2 linked regions of the Homo sapiens genome follow. The main gene of each other region encodes a partner of the protein of the gene in region 2 in a complex. Each region holds a gene or a part of one and is shown on either strand. Other genes may lie near its edges. The genes, in order: GNA11 and CRHR2. A codon is read from its position in the direction of its gene.

Region 1 (8,138 bases), on a different chromosome or scaffold from region 2:
CCCAGGTGAGGGGACCCAGGCTTGGCAGGTGGGGAAGGCCCGGCCCCCAACGCTGCCCCTGCTCAGGGCAGGGCCCACCTCGTTGTCCGACTCCACCAGGACTTGGTCGTATTCGCTGAGGGCGACGAGAAACATGATGGATGTCACGTTCTCAAAGCAGTGGATCCACTTCCTCCGCTCCGACCGCTGGCCCCCCACATCCACCATCCTGAAAGGACACAGCGCCAGGACTCAGCCACCTGGCGCCCCAAGGCCCAATCTGCAATCCCAGGACGGCTCCCACCCAAGCCCCTCCTGCCACACCAGACTGACATCGGCTGGAGCAGGAAGAGCCCCCACTCTTAGAACGGGCAAGGACGCTCTCAGAGAGCGGCCGCACCGCCTCCAGGGGTGACCACCGCAGACCCTTCCCTCACTGGCAAAGGGGCCTGAGACCACTGGGCCCAGGGAAGCGGGCGCTAGTGTGGGGGTGTGAGAACCCAGAGGATTCTGGGCGCCAGCTGCTGCGGGAACCTGCGATGGGTGCCCAGGGACCCTACATCTGGCATCTGGATGTCACCCTGAGCACAGAAGCCTTTCCCCTCACTGGGCCAGGGACACAGATGTTCACCAAGCGTCACTCGCAGGAGTAAACACTGATGCCACAGTTGCTCCCTGCAGGGACCCTCCAGTGACGGCTGCAGAGGGCAGAGTTGCCGGTATCCTCCTGGGGCAGAAGAGCAGGCGCAGCGCCCTGCCCCGCGTGGTGAGCAGCTCAACCTCACACTCTCAGGCCACGCACAGGCGGGAGAAAGAAAATCAGCTCAGACGATGTCTGCGGGCGTGCGTTCCTTACGGGACGTTTGCCTCTTTCTACTTGTGACTTTTCTAAGTTTTCTATAACGAGAAAAGGCACTTTGGTCTCCTTGAAAGAATACAAAGGCAGAAGCGGAGAGTGCCCCTCAGGCCCTGGCCCCAGGCCCCAGGGAAGGCCGGGGTCCCTGCAACTCTGCCGAGGAGAGCGGGGCTGCTTTGGGCATGTGAGTGGTGAAATCCACCTGGTCTGGTCTGCGGGGGAGTCCAGCAGGCACCGGTGGATGACAGATGTGCCAGGTGACTCTAAGGGACAAGAGGGCCCGCACCAGCAGCTGTGGCCAGGCGGGAGGACAGTGGGTGTGCCGACACCAGGCCACAGCCCGTCTGGAGCGCGAGGCCTCTCCTGCACGCCTGCGGCGGCCGGCAGGGCTGGGATCCGGGTCCCCCCGTGTCTTGTCCCCACCTGAGGGAGCAGGAGCCTCTCCTCACGCACTGGGACGATCCCACCGGCCTTCAAGGCCTCCAGCTGCATCCCACAGCACCTGGCCGGCCCTCTGCCAGCGTGTGGTGGACAGAGGCGGCTGGCAGAGAAACAATGGTGGCAGAGGAGTAGGCTCAGGACGGGGGTCTGCACCCGGCACAGAGGGCACAGCCGGGCCGGGCGCGGTGGCTCACGCCTGTAATCCCAGCACTTTGGGAGGCCGAGGCAGGCGGATCACGAGGTCAGGAGGTCGAGACCATCCTGGCTAACATGGTGAAACCACATCTCTACTAAAAAGTACAAAAAATTAGCCAGGCGTGGTGGCGGGCGTCTATAGTCCCAGCTACTCGGGAGGCTGAGGCAGGAGAATGGCGTGAACCCGGGAGGCGGAGCTTGCAGTGAGCCCAGATTGCACAGCTGCACTCCAGCCTGGGCGACAGAGCAAGACTCCGTCTCAAAAAAAAGAAAAGGGCACAGCTGGAGCTGGGAAGGGCCTGGAAGATGGTGGAGAGGGGGTGACACACCCAGCCTGAGCTCAGCTCAGGGAGGGGACAGGACATTTCTGACAGAGGACACAGAGGCCTGCGCTGTTAAGAGGCCAGCGTGGGGCTGTGAGGGGACATTCATGCCACAACCTGGCCTATGCCTGGCTCGCCTCAGCTGTATCCTGGGGTCATGGGCCCCGTGTGAATAAAAAAGAAGAAAAACTTGAATTCTCGTAACAATATACACCATCGCCCATGTCCAGAGAGGACACCGCAGCTTCTGAGGGCCCAGCGCCTGCTCGGGTCCCCGGGAACCATCCCAGAGCTTGGCATTCCTTGGCTTGTGGCCACATTGCTCCATCCCTGCCTCCATCTTCACGCCGCATCCTCCCTGCCTGCGCTGGGAGGCCGAGCTGGGAGGACGGGTGGGGAGAACAGGCAGATGGCAGGGGGTGGCACCCCCAGCCCTGGGGTGGGTCTCAAGGCAGGGCTCTCGAGGAAAACCCCACAGACTTCCCGGAACCCTCACAATGGCCTCGGCAGTGCACCAGCTGGGTGGGGACACCCTGGCAGGGAGGCGTCATTCCCTCATGAGGGCCAGTGCCAGGGCGAGCTTGCACTGCAGGAGAAGGCACCCGCAACCGGAGCCACCGCGAGGCCCTCCAGGACAGAGCCGTCTAGCGCCCCACACGCACGAACACCAGAACCCGGGGACGGCTCTGATCTGGAAACAGGGTCTGTGCGGATGTCACTGGTTAGGATAACGTCACACAGAGGTAGGGTGGCCCTGGCCAAGGACAGGTTATAAGAGAACAGAGGCAAAGGCGCAGGCGGGGAGGACGCTGCATGAGGATGGGGGCAGGGATGAGGCAACCCGGCCACAAGCCAAGGATGCCAAGGATGCCAAGGATGCCAAGGATGCGGCCGCCACTAGGAGCCGAGTGAGGCCTGGGCAGATCCCCTCAGCCTCAGAAGGACCTGGCCCGGCCCACACCTGCATCTCAGCCTTCTGGCCTCCAGCACTGGGCGGGAATAAGGCCTGCGGTGGGAGTCTCACGCCCGACACCAGCAGCCCAGGACAGGCACGCATAAAGCCGGGACCTCAGCGCTGGAGATGTTATATGGGGCCAGGAGACAGGCAGGCAGGGTCCACGTTCCCAGGGACAGCAGAGTCCAGCCAGCTGAGCAGCCTACCAGACACAGGACCCACTGAGGGTCCCCAGGGAGAACCCGGCTCTGCTGGCCGGCCCCCAGCCACAGTGGACCTGGAGCCCCGGAGGCCCAGCAGGATCCGCAGGGGCAGCCCGTGAAGAACAGAATCCACCCCACACCACCCAGCTCCTCCACCCCAGCCTGGAGCCCTCCTCCCCACTCAGTCCCTATGACCCCTCCTCCCCTCAAAGCCTCGGTCCCCACGACCCCTCCTCCCCTCACAGCCTCGGTCCCCATGACCCCTCTTCCCTGACAGCCTCGGCCCCTATGACCCCTCCTCCCCTCACAGCCTCAGTCCCTATGACCCCTCCTCCCCACTCAGTCCCTATGACCCCTCCTCCACTCACAGCCTCGGTCCCCGTGACCCCCCCCCTCCCCTCACAGCCTCGGTCCCTATGACCCCTCCTCCCCTCACAGCCTCGGTCCCCATGAGCCCCCTCCCCTGGCAGCCTCAGTCCCTATGACCCCTCCCGCACCATGCGGCACCCCCTGCTCCGGCCAGCACTCCAGACCCCAGCCCCATGCTGGCTCCAACCAGGCCCCCGGCCCGTCCTGGAGGCCCTGTCAAATGTCCTCCCTGCCAGGTCTCTTCGGCTGCCGGTCTGGATGGATGTGGCCACGCCCCCCACACCCCCACAGCTCCTTCCCTGTGTGGCCCTGGCTCACACATACTTAGAGATAAATCTTATCCCCTGACCTGGTCAAACACACACTGAGGATGAAGACCAATGGGCTTTCTTTTGTTTAATAAGACGAAACAGGGTCTCCCTCTGTCGCCCAGGCTGGAGTCCAGTGGTGCCATCATGGCTCACTTCAGCCTCAACCTCCTGGGCTTGAGCGATCCTCCTGCCTCAGCCTCCTGAGTAGCTGGGACCACAGGTGCACACAACCACGCCCAGCTAATTTTTAAAATTTTTTTTAGATATGAGGTCTGGCTATGTTGCCCAGGGTGGTCTCAAACTCCTGGACTCAGGCGATCCTCCCGCCTTGGCCTCCCAAAGCACTGGGTGCGCAGGCATGAGCCGGCACACCGGGCAAATGAGCCTCTCAGTGCCCCCTCCCCGCCTGCTGTGGCCCGGGCGGTACCGGAAGATGATGTTCTCCAGGTCGAAAGGGTACTCGATGATGCCGGTGGTGGGCACGCGGACCCGCAGCACGTCCTGCTGGGTGGGCAGGTAGCCCAAGGTGGCGATGCGGTCAACGTCGGTCAGGTAGCTGCAACACAGCGGTGGGTGCTCAGGCCGGCTGCCGGGGGTGGGGGGGCAGGACAGGGACACAGCACCCAAACCAGCGGGAGGACGGAAAGCCACCAGGAGGGGGTGGACCGCGCACTGCGCCACCTACGGCAGTGTCTGAAGCAGCCCGGAGGGCTCGGGCCAATGGAGACCCTGGGGTCGGGATACGAGCCTCCCAACCTCTATCCTCTCTGGGGTCTCAGGGGACAGAAATGACCCAGCACAAGAGAAAGTCCCAGGACGAGGACTCCAGCTGGTTCGGGGGGTTTGTAGTAGAGCTGTCCAGAGACGGCCACCAAGGAGGGAGACGGTGACCCAGGGCAGGGGACTTCCCGAGAGAGGCCTGGCTGGCCCCAGGGATGAGGCTTCACAAACAAGCGCATCATTAGGAGAGTCGCAGCTGCAGAGGCTGCAGAGGTCCCAGCAGATCCCCGTGCCCGTCTCCCTGCTGCTCCCTGTACGTGGGTGCGGCACCCACCACGAGCAATGAGCCAGTGTCTACACAGCGCAGCTACTGAAGTCCACGCTTGATTCCGGCTTCCTTGGTTCCCCTCATGCCTTTTCCTGCCCAGCCCTCTGGGTTGGGACAGTTTCCCGTTTTTGACGCCCTGGGCAGTCCTGAGTGGGGCGCCCCTCGAGTGGTCTGCCTGGGGTGGGGGTTGTAAGAGGCCGGGTGCCTGCTCAGACCTTTCCGGCACCGCGAGGAGGCCCTGGCGTTTTGTTCCAAGTGCTTGGTTATCTGGGCCCTCCCACAACCTCCCAGAGGCAGGGAACACACAGAGGACGGGCAGGAGGGGCGGGGGACAGGCCTGTCCCTGTCGCCTTAGGGTCTCTCCCGGTGCTGGGGGAGGGCCGGGGCCTCTGCCTGCCAAGCATGGAGGGCAGCAGTGCACAGCCTGCCACGCGGGGGCCTCCACCTGCGGCCATGGCCCGGCCACCTGTCAGCACACAAGTCACCCCCTATCCCAGGCCCAGAGACTGGGAGAACCCTGACATCAGTCAAGGTCACAGCCAGTCACTAGTGGGAGACGTGGCTCTGGGGACGATGTCCCAGGCAGGAGCGAGACGGCCCAGGTTGTGTCTACCTCCCATCCCACGGCCCTCCTAGGAGACCCTGGGTTTCCCCCACAGGCCACAGGCCGGGCTCCAGCACCGAGGGTGGCCAGGAGCTCACTCCTGACCCAGGGAGGGCAGCGGCAGGGCCAGGCATACAAGCAGGCCAGTGTCACACCAGAGTCCACCGGCTCCTGCCAAGGCGTGGCCCCTCCAGGGATCTGCTCTGGTCCCTCCATCCGGCCAGGTGGCCCGGGCCCACCGCATCCCTGCCCCCGGCGAGCAGGCAGGGGGCACCACAGACGCCGCGGAGGCCTTCCCGAAGGGTCCCAGGCACCGGCCCGCAGCTGCCGTCCCCAGGCCGCCAGCGGTGCGGCCGCACTTACTACTTGGCAGAGTCGGAGAGCTGGTACTCGCGCCTGCGGTCGTAGCATTCCTGGATGCCCGGGTCCTCCCACAGGGTCTTGATGGCACTGACGTACTGATGCTCGAAGGTGGTCACCTTCTCCACGTCCACCTCCCGGATCAGGAGCGCATTGGCCTGCGAGGGCGGGCAGGGGAGACGTCGAGAGCTCGCTGGGGCCACACATCCACCAGAAAGCTTGTGACGGCCCCTCTTCCAGGCCTCGGCTGGCCCGGGCGGCATTCCGCAGGCTGTGCAGTCAGGACCACTGACAGTTCCGTGTGAACACGTGTCAGAAAAACGCGAGGCCGCCTGGCGGTGTGGTTCCTCCGAACAAGGCCCCACAAGCAAAGCCTCCCGGCGGTGCGGTCTGCAGGGTGCCGGGGAGGCCGGGCTTCGATTCACTTCTTAGAGGTGGGGAGGGGACGGTGTGGGGAACAAGCACGTGTAGAACACACACACTTCAAACCCAGGACCCACAGGAGGGCAGTGCAGCGCCGAGCACGACCAAGCACGACGACAGAACTAACCAACAGCCCCAGCACTCGCTGCCTCGAATTCTCCAGACACACCGGGAGGCAGGAAGCCCAGTCACAGGACGTTGCAACCAGCGGCATCGCCTGCAGTGTGCAGCTCCAGACTCGGTTTCTGCCCCGCCGGCTTCTCTCTTTCGTCCGAAAAATGCTTATCAAACATCATCAAGAGCAGATACCACACCCGGTGCTAAGGACGGCGTGTGGCCCCCGAGCTGCCGCACTCAACAGTTTACATGGTGCCCCAACACGAGCCGCCTCCCCCTCACGGAACCCTGGGCGGCGGGTGGCATCAGGCCCCAGCTTGCTGCCCTGTCACAAAGGAAGGCCAACCGCACAGACACGTGCTTGCACACACATGTGAACACCCTTTGGGGCAGACACTGTGGGGGGGCCATCCTTTCCCCTCCTGATGCTCTGTGTCCCCGTCCCCGGGGCGCACAGGCCGACATGACCAGCCACAGTTTGGCTGAGGGACTGGGGAGGGGACATACTGGGTGGGACCCAGATGGGAAAGAAGGGAGCCTTGCCCTGGGCTCTGGGAGCCACGGGGCCCTCCCAGGCCCCCCAGAGTGGAGACTCAGCCCTTGCTTGTCCCCTCTGAGCAACGCTCCCTGCCCCGGACTCCGACTTCAGCCCTCCCCTTGCCCTGCCCCCAGCCTCTCAATCTGGGCTGGGATAAGCACACCTAGGGGGACTTGGAAAAAGAGACACAAACCCCAAAAATCCCACTCCCTGGAAACTTCCAGATTAGACAGCAGCAATCTGCTTCTGCAGAGAGCCAGAGAGCACACCCAGCCTTCCCGACCACACGGACTGTCTCCAGCACTCGGCTCTGCTGCTGCTGCTGAAGCACCATGGGCAACATGGCAGAAATGGGTATGTGCCAATAAAACTTTATCGACAAAATCAGTCTGCAGTTTGCAGATGCGTGTTTCAGAAGCTGATGGAGATCTAAGCCCAAATATGAATATGGACTCTCAGAGAGGGCCACAGCTGGAAGAGATCACAGCGGGAGACAGGGCAAGTGGCAAACCAAGATCTAAGGGCAAGAGCCCTACCCCTGAAAGCAGGGCTACGAAAGCGGGATCAATGGCCCCTCAGCTGAAAGGCCCCAGGGAGGCCACTGGCAGGAGCCACGGCTGCACGGCTGCTGGGCCTGCCCCATAGGGCGGCCACTGGGGCAAACTCTCTGGACGCTTCTCAGAGGGCAAAGCCAGAGTCACCCTGGGACCCAGCAATTCTGCTCCCAGGCGTAGCATGCAACTGAGGGAAGGGAACACATCATCCACATAAACACACGTCCACAGACGGTCACGGCAGCTCCGTTCCCAACAGCCCACACATGAAGGCACTCAAATGTCCTCCAGGGGATAAATGGGCAAATACGCGGTCCCTCCATGCACTGGAACATGACTCAGCCATGAACAGGGACGAGGCTCTGACACAGGCCACTGTGTGGATGCACCTTGAGGACGTCACACTCAGTGAGAGACGCCGGACACAAAAGGCCACATGGCGTGCAATCCCATTTCTATGAAATGTTCAGGACAGACCGATCCACAGAGGCAGGAAGGGGATGTGTGGGTGCCGGGGCTGGAGGAGGGGGTGGGAGTGACGGCCGATGGGGAAGGGGCTTCCTTTGAGAAAATGAAATCTGGAATCCGACAGCGGTGATGGCTGCACGACTATGCAAACATATCGAAAACCACCAAATTATACACTTTAAGCAAGTGAAGTGCATAGAATGTGAATTATAACTCAATAAAGCTGTGATTTAAAAACAGGGCATCAAATGACCTCTACTTTATCAAAAAAAAAAGAAAAAAAACCAGGGCGGAGGCCAGGCATGGTGGCTCATACCTGTAATCCCAGCACTTTGGGAGGCCAAAGCGGGAGGACTGCTTGAGCCCAGGAGTTCAAGACCAGCCTGGGCAACAT
Region 2 (8,138 bases):
GAGGCTCAAAGGCAGGTCTCCTGCTTTGTCCCCACCATCTGCCTGTTGTCCTCGAGGTTGGACACGTGTTTGGTGTTCCTGCCATCCCTACACTCCCCAGCAGCTCACAGCTGCATTTCTGCTGCTAAGAGACACTCACTTATTTCTGGTTCTGAGAAGTGAATCAGGTGGTTGAATTTGCAGGAAGCCTGACTTCTTGCTGGTGTTGTCATTGTTGGTGTCATGGGAAAGGATTGGCAGTCACTAGGCCAGACACAGGTCTTAGTGGTCTCTGTGACTATTTCAGCCCATGCTGATCTTCTAAGGCAAGCTCTGTGGTTAGGCCCCTCGGGGGCAGACAAGGAAGCAGGAGCTCATGAGGTTAAGCAACTTACCCAAGGCCACACAACTGCAAATTGGAACAGTCAAAATTTGAGCCATGAGACTAGGACTTGGTGCTTCAGTTCATTTGGGAGGGGGGCCTCATCTTCAGTTCTTAGCCCATCTGCCATTTCTCCAGGTCTTTTTGACACCTTAGGAAAGATGTCATCTCCCCCACCCCCAACCCCTCCAGGCCCCCAGCTAGGCCACAAGCCCTCTGCAAGCAGGGGCTGTGACTGCCTGTCCACTTCGCCATCGCTGATGCCTGGCTCAGAGCCTGACACATGGTCCATTGATTCATTGAATGAATGAACAATTAAATAAAACCAGAAACAGGCTGAACGAGGGCAGGGTACAATAGACAGTTCTTACTAAAGAACTGGAGTGTGTTTTTAGCAGGGAGGTAGAGTCCAAGAATGGAAAGCCGGAGAGCTCAGTGTGGGCAGGGTGACCAGAAGGCTCCCTGGAGAGAGAGGAAGGTACCTGTGGTGGTGTGAAGGGGGAGGCTGGGAAACAGGCTCAAAGGAAAGAAGGATTTTCAGGTTACATAGACCCAAGCTGAGATGAGTGGGGCCACATAACTAAATGTCTGCCAAGTGTAAGGATGGAGACAAGGCCTTGGTTGCTAGGTAGATGAATGGATAGACGGATGGGCCAGTGGATGGGCAGATAAAAGAGTAGGTGGATAACTGAATGGATTGGTTATTGGGTAGGTAGATGGATGGGTAGATGGATGGGTACGTGGATGGATAGATAAAACAGTAGGTGGATAATTGAATGAATTGGTTGTTGGGTAGATGGATGGATGGATGGAAGGAAGGAAGGATGAATGGATGAATGGCTGGATGGATGGATGGATGGACGGATGGATAAAAGTAGGTGGGTAAATGAATGAACTGGTTGGTAGGTAAGTGGATAGATGGATAGATGAATAAAGTGGGTGGATAATTGAATTGATTAGTGGGTTGATGGATGTTGGAAGATTAATATTGAATTCAAGAAAATGTGGCAGAAATGAGAATATATTTTGATTCCAACAGTTTCTACTCTCAGGGAAGTCCGGAAGAATCAGAAAAGGTCAAATACTTTGTATTACTTGTATGAGAAAATTAGGATTCACTTATATGTTAAGGTGACTTGTGTCCCATGATCCAGGGGAATATGCCAGAGACCCAGGAGCTGGAAATTAGGTGAGCCCTAGGAGAAAGCTGGGGGTATCAGGTCATGGCAGCCCCGCTGAAGGCTTTCCATCCCCAGCCCTCCCTGGGACCCCCAGGCCATACCACTATGTGGTAAGAGAGCAGTAGACAGTGGCTGAGGTGGGGTGTGAGCTCTCCCTGCCCCTAGGGCTACCCGAAAGCTTGTGGGGAGCATCCAGAGGCTACAGGTTGACAGTCTCAGGATATCTGTCTGTATCCTGTGTCCCTCCTCTCCCAGCCAGGATTCAGAACTTGGGAGGGTTAGAAGGGCCCAGCCCAAGCTTAAGAAGCAATGGATTTTCTTGACAGAGTGTCAGAGGTGTGTGTGTGTGTGTGTGTGTGTGTGAGTGGGTGTGTGCACACGAGCCAGCAGACACCCCTGGGCTAACATGTGTCTCCCTCTGGCCCACGAGCACTTTGTCAGGAAACAGCCCCACTGTGTCAGGCCGACACACACTCCCTTGCCTGCCTGCCTGCCTATGCTCGGAGGCAGGTGAAGAGAAACGCAGATGTGCCCGGGCCCCAGATCCATGCTCACACATGCACACGCTCTGTGAGGCAAACACACTTGCACAAGTGCTTAAAGGATAGACCCACAGACCCACACTGCAGCTCCCAGGGGACAACACAGTCATAGTCACAGCCAATACAGATGAACAGACACTCGCAGGCCCATGGGGACCCACACCCAGCAGGGAGCAGCTGGGGAGCCACACAGGCCAGTTCCAGGGCCAGGTGCTGGGTGGGGAGGCTCTGGTGCTGAGGGAAAACTCAGAATGAAGATAAATGAGGCCCTTCCTGGGGCCTCAGAGCCAGCCCCACAGCCCATCCATCTTCCCTGTCTAGGGTGCCTACGAAGGCTCTGGAGTTCCTGGGCACAGGGGTGGGATGCTGGCAGATTAATCACTCATTCGGCAACTGAGTTCTTAATCCCTCCATCTGGCCTTGTCCGCCCCACCATGGCAGTGCTGTCCTCAGTCAGAAGGACCTCAGGCCGACCTAGAGCCAGTGACAGTGCAAGGGACTCAGAGAGCCCCGCAGTCAACAAGTAGGGACCCCGTGGCAGTGAGGGGAAGGGGGCTCCCATAGGGTCCCTATACTGGGGAGAGGGTTGGGGGCTTTCTCAGCCTCAGAGGGCATGCCCCGTGCTCTCGGTCACGACCCACAGAGGCTGCCACCTTTCCTCCTCAGTCCTGGGCTGGAGACACAGGCCCTGGAAAATGGGGCTGTCTCCCCATCCTGGCGAGGGAGGAGCACAGGCCTTGGGATGCTGGCAGGTGCTAGGGGGACAGGTAGGATAGGTGTGTGCGTGGGACATCGGTTTCCAGGGGTCTGCGGGGAAGGGGGCTGCCTCTCGGCTCATCTCAAACACGTGCTCCTTCCTTTTCCCTCTTTCCCATGCCCGCCCTCCCTCCAGATCAATTTCGTATTTCTGTTCAACATCGTCAGGATCCTAATGACAAAGTTACGCGCGTCCACCACATCCGAGACAATCCAGTACAGGTATGTGAGGGGGTCCCTTGACCCCACAATGGGGACAGGAGGAGGTCATCGGGCCGTCCCCCTGCTTCCTGGCAGAGCCCTCTGCCCCAGGCCTCACCCAGGGAGCTCGCTCAAGCTCCCGGAAGAAACACCACCACTGTCTCCCGCCGCCCACTGGGTGAGGCCCTGCCTGCCGCATGGGCTCAGACCTGTGTCCACCTCTCGCCCCCAGGAAGGCAGTGAAGGCCACCCTGGTGCTCCTGCCCCTCCTGGGCATCACCTACATGCTCTTCTTCGTCAATCCCGGGGAGGACGACCTGTCACAGATCATGTTCATCTATTTCAACTCCTTCCTGCAGTCGTTCCAGGTGGGGCCTGTGACCAGATGGGGGCCCCACAGTGAGCTTTCCTGAGGCTGCTCTGGCAGCCATGCCCTCACTAAGGGGGTCCCGTGGGACTGGCACACCCATGGCTCAGTTACATCCACAGAGTTAGAAGCCCGTACATGCTCAGCCTGAGCCTGGCCAGTTATCCCCATCCCAGCCTGGGTCTTCATCCTACCAGCCCGCACCTACTGTCCCAGCACCTGTTCTGAGGATGCAGGCAGCCCAACCAAATGCCCTGGGACAGGTCACACAATATTGAGGAGACCGGAGTCTGCCTGGCTCCAGGCCTGTGACCACTGCTCACTCAGAGTGGACCGTGGAATATCTGCACCCTGAGGCTAGGACCCCACCCAGCTCTGACTCCAGGGGTTCCTGGGTCAAATTGTCCCCCCCCCACCATCTTGTCCCCAGTGCCACCCCACCAGGCAGAACAGCTCCGCAGGTAGGTCACTGACCACTCCCTCCTTTCCCTCCTTTCCAGGGTTTCTTCGTGTCTGTCTTCTACTGCTTCTTCAATGGAGAGGTATGAAGCTGGGCCCTCGGGGTGGCCTGGGATATCCAGGTCCTCAGACCCCACTCCAGGGCAGCTCCATTGGTGCTGCCCGGCCTTGCTGGAGTGCCAGGGAGAGGAAGCCTTGAGATACCACCCGGCCTTAGGGGAACAGGAATCCTTCTCACAGGGGCTGGAGCCAGTTTAGAAGGTCAACTATGCAGCCCCGAAATAACATGCCAGCACCCCACATGTGCACTCAGAGCTGGGTGAGCAAGGAAGCCCAGGCCGCAGGGCCTCATGGAAGAGAGAAGCCAGAGCAGAGGTGGTGACAGAAGGAAGCTTCCAGAAAGAGATGTGTGCCAAGCAATCAGGTCTGTATGGACTCAGGGAGCAGAAGAGAGACCAGCACATTCCCCCGCTACCTGCCACAGAAAAGCCCACACACCAAGAGCAGGCTCTGGGGAGTCAGGCGGCCGTGAAGCTTGGCATGTGCAAGCCAATCATGAGGCCCAAAGCCCCAGTGCAGCTGACGCAGGGAAGAAGCGCACTCGTACCTGGGCTGGGGTGGATGAGGACATGGAGCAAAGAGCAGACACAGCCCCTAGGGCCTGGGAGCTTCCGAACACTCCAGAGGAATACACTTGCCTGTCTCTGCACAGGGCACTGGCGAGGTGTCTATGCAGGCCTGTGTCTCTGTGGATGATAGCACATTCCACTTGCAAAGTCCATCAGCAGAGACGGGTCCTGTGGGCTGGATGAGAAGAAGAGAGGGGGCCAGTAAGGCAAACAAACAAGGGATGTTTATGGAGCATTTATTCTGTTCGAACCATGTGCAAGCTAGGATGTGAGAGACACCATCCAATTTCCAAAAAAATTCAATTACCAAACAAATGAAGCTTAAATGGCACCGGGTAGAGCCAACTTTAGAAATGACCAAGACAGAGAGCTTTCCCTTTCAGGCAGTAAATGCCATGGTTAGTCAGGCAGGGGAGTCTAGCAGGAGGTAGAGAAGGTGGAGGGGTGCAGAGGGGACGGTCTTCAGGAGGGAGGAGGAGGCGCACCAGGTGTGTGAGCTGGGCGCACACCACCAACGCCCTGCAAGGAGCAGGGGCCCAAGAAGGCTGAGGGGGCCAAGTCTCCAAGCTGCGCTCTCTGGTCCCAAGATGCTAATTTTGAGGTGGCAGAGTGAGTCAGGGAAGGGAAGGCAGTGTGTCCAGAGGAAACTGGATGATCTGGGAGGACAGTGTGGAGTAAAGGAGGTGTGGAGTCAAGCTTCTCCAGGAAAAGGATAAGGAAGAGGCCCCTGGAGAGAGGCAACAGCATCAGGGAAGGACCTGTTTTGGAAGCAGACAGTTCCTTGTCATGAGGGTGGCAGTCGACCCATGAGAGCAGAAAGCAGAGGAGGGGATGGTCCCAGAAGCCCAGGGTTGGTCCCTGGGAGCCAGCTGAGCCTCTGCCTTCCCCACAGGTGCGCTCAGCCGTGAGGAAGAGGTGGCACCGCTGGCAGGACCATCACTCCCTTCGAGTCCCCATGGCCCGGGCCATGTCCATCCCTACATCACCCACACGGATCAGCTTCCACAGCATCAAGCAGACGGCCGCTGTGTGACCCCTCGGTCGCCCACCTGCACAGCTCCCCTGTCCTCCTCCACCTTCTTCCTCTGGGTTCTCTGTGCTGGGCAGGCTCTCGTGGGGCAGGAGATGGGAGGGGAGAGACCAGCTCTCCAGCCTGGCAGGAAAGAGGGGGTGCGGCAGCCAAGGGGGACTGCAAGGGACAGGGATGAGTGGGGGCCACCAGGCTCAGCGCAAGAGGAAGCAGAGGGAATTCACAGGACCCCCTGAGAAGAGCCAGTCAGATGTCTGCAGGCATTTGCCCATCCCAGCCTCTCTGGCCAGGGCCTTACTGGGCCCAGAGCAGAGAAGGACCTGTCCAACACACACAGCTATTTATAGTAGCAGACACAGGGCTCCCCTGCCCTACTCATGGAGCCAGCAGCCAGGCAATGGTGTGGCCCTGCACTGGCCCTTGGCCTCCACACTCAGTGGTGCCCCTGCAGTTGGGTGGGGTACGCCAGCAAAGGATCAGTTTGGCTGCCTTATCCCAGGGGCTGTCACCTAGAGAGGCTCACTTGTACCCCACCCTTGTTCCTGTGTCCCCTCCCCAGCCATCCTCCCGCCTTGGGGGCTCCATGAAGGATGCAGGCTTCCAGGCCTGGCTTCCTCTCTTGGGAGACCCCTTCTCTGCCTAGTCCACAGATTAGGCAATCAAGGAAGACGCCATCAGGGAAGCCACATCCTTAGTCAACCAGTTGCATCGTGCGGGGCAAAATGAGGAGCAGAGGCATGGAGGAGGGAGGCGTGGGATGGGAATAGCAGAAACCAACCATGTCTTCAGTGATTGAAACTCATACCCCATTGCCCTTTGCCCTCCAGTCTCCCCTTCAGAAACATCTCTGCTCTCTGTGAAATAAACCATGCCTCTTGGAAGTGGCCTCCCCTCAGGTCAAGTCACCCAGGCACCCGAAGAGTGGTGTGGGCCAAGGATCGTGGCTGGGTCTGAGGGGGCCACATCCATCTTCCTTAGTGGGCTCGGGCCCTGGCCTCGGGCCAGTTCTCTCTCTCTCTGACCTCTGGTAGGTTTGGAGTCTTTATGGTCAAAGCACCTGCAGGCGGGTCTGTCCCTTATCACTCCAACCAGGCTAATACCTGGCCCCAGCCCCCAACCAAGGGCAGCTTGATTCAGCCTGGAGGAGGTGTGCAGCTCATCCAGCAAGCCAGGGCCTGTCCCAAAGGCCAAGGCTCTGGAATCTGGTGGGCAGGGTAGACATGGCCCCTCAGTTGACCACCAGGGCAGCTTCCAGGCTTGGCTTCCGTCCCTGTGTCCCTGCAGCGGAGCCGCAGGAGTCAGGGAGAGAGAAGCATCAGGCCATTTCTTCCAAAAGAAACCAATGCTCTAGGTACCCCCTACAAAAATAAGTTTTGAAAAATCATGTATCCCGTCTTGCACATTTTTAAGTTGACATGTAGTATTTTTTACTTAAGTTTTAAATCCTTCAAAGGTGTGATTTCTGCCATTTTGTAAATATTTACATTTTTAAATAAAACTGCTGCAACAATTTAAAATACATCAAATGAATTCTGATCACCATGGTGATTTAACACCCACCCTCATCTATTTTAAAAACACCTGACCCAGCTCTCCTTCTTCTTCTTTTTTTTTTTTTTTTTTTTGAGACAGGGTCTCACTCTGTCATCCAGGCTAGGGTGCAGTGGCAAGATCTCAGTTCACTGCAACCTCCACTTCCCAGGCTCAGGTGATCTTCCCAACCCAGCCTCCCGAATAGCTGGGACTACAGGCACGCACCACCATGCTGGGCTAATTTTTGTATTTTTTTGTAGAGACAGGGTCTGGTCATGTTGCTCAGGCTGGCCAGCTCCGCTTTAATTGTGGGAAATGTTACATTGTTTCTTTCCTCTTTAATGTGTAGCTTCATTCCATTGCCCTATAGAATTTTATACTAATGCATTACTTTTATGGCTGAAAGTGTTTTATTGCTCACTTTGTCATACTTCTCTGCCACACAATATATGTATGAATGAAAATTAAAATATTTCATTTTCTATGACCAAAGTTTCAAGGGATTTTAAAATAATCTTCTGGGTTGAATTATTACAATTATTTTTTGATACAAAATACAGTAAGCCACTGATTAAAACAACATAGATACCTAAAGTTTTTATAAGTAACTAGTTAAACCTAAAAAGGAAAATGTATTGAAAACACAGCTTAATGAAATGGATAGGAAGTTAATGGCTCATGAATCTACAGGTGAATATTTATTGCTAGAATAAATCAGGACTCAGCATCAATTCTTTTCTTTTTTAATGTTTTATTGTTTATAGTGGGGTGTGCTGAGAAGCCTTTTCAATTCAGTAGATGATCTGGCACTCCAGATAGTCAATTCTCTATACTCTTGCTGAGATGTACAGTCAAAACTGCATAGTGATCTGTCACCAAAAATGACCTATCAGCTGGCTGTTTAATTAAGTGTCCTTTCAATTTGGCTGAAAAAGATGAACTGAACGTTATCTGACTTGCAGTAGGCTTTGGGCGCCCATGTCATCAGCTCATTCCATTTTTCACCACCAGCTGTGTGGGAATGCACTGCAGGTTAAGTGTGAGCCCTGCTTCTCTTGTCAAGAGGGCAGGGAGGTTGG

The links.
Region 1: the proteins of CRHR2 (region 2) and GNA11 are in contact, whole or in part, in a cryo-EM structure (PDB 7TRY), measured with the Homo sapiens proteins. Residues at the interface, in NP_001874.2 of Homo sapiens: Arg148, Tyr208, Leu209, Ala212, Ile213, Thr216, Glu220, Lys293 (codon at 3,022), Lys307 (codon at 3,275), Ala311 (codon at 3,287), Phe358 (codon at 3,927), Tyr359 (codon at 3,930), Phe362 (codon at 3,939), Asn363 (codon at 3,942); in NP_002058.2 of Homo sapiens: Arg37, Ile348, Leu349, Asn352, Leu353, Glu355, Tyr356, Asn357, Leu358.

Annotation. Positions count from the first base shown.
Region 1 is NC_000019.10:3,110,994-3,119,131, reverse strand, and holds part of GNA11 (guanine nucleotide-binding protein subunit alpha-11), read right to left. Parts: intron 5,803-8,138; coding exon 5,648-5,802; intron 4,189-5,647; coding exon 4,060-4,188; intron 209-4,059; coding exon 79-208; intron 1-78. UniProt on the Homo sapiens protein: Guanine nucleotide-binding proteins (G proteins) function as transducers downstream of G protein-coupled receptors (GPCRs) in numerous signaling cascades.
Region 2 is NC_000007.14:30,650,851-30,658,988, reverse strand, and holds the end of CRHR2 (corticotropin-releasing factor receptor 2), read left to right. Parts: exon of another isoform or gene 1-2,976; coding exon 2,977-3,062; exon of another isoform or gene 3,063-3,273; coding exon 3,274-3,409; exon of another isoform or gene 3,410-3,908; coding exon 3,909-3,950; exon of another isoform or gene 3,951-4,107; coding exon of another isoform or gene 4,108-4,125; exon of another isoform or gene 4,126-4,180; coding exon of another isoform or gene 4,181-4,249; exon of another isoform or gene 4,250-4,850; intron 4,851-5,388; coding exon 5,389-5,529; 3' UTR 5,530-7,047; downstream 7,048-8,138. UniProt on the Homo sapiens protein: G-protein coupled receptor for CRH (corticotropin-releasing factor), UCN (urocortin), UCN2 and UCN3. Has high affinity for UCN.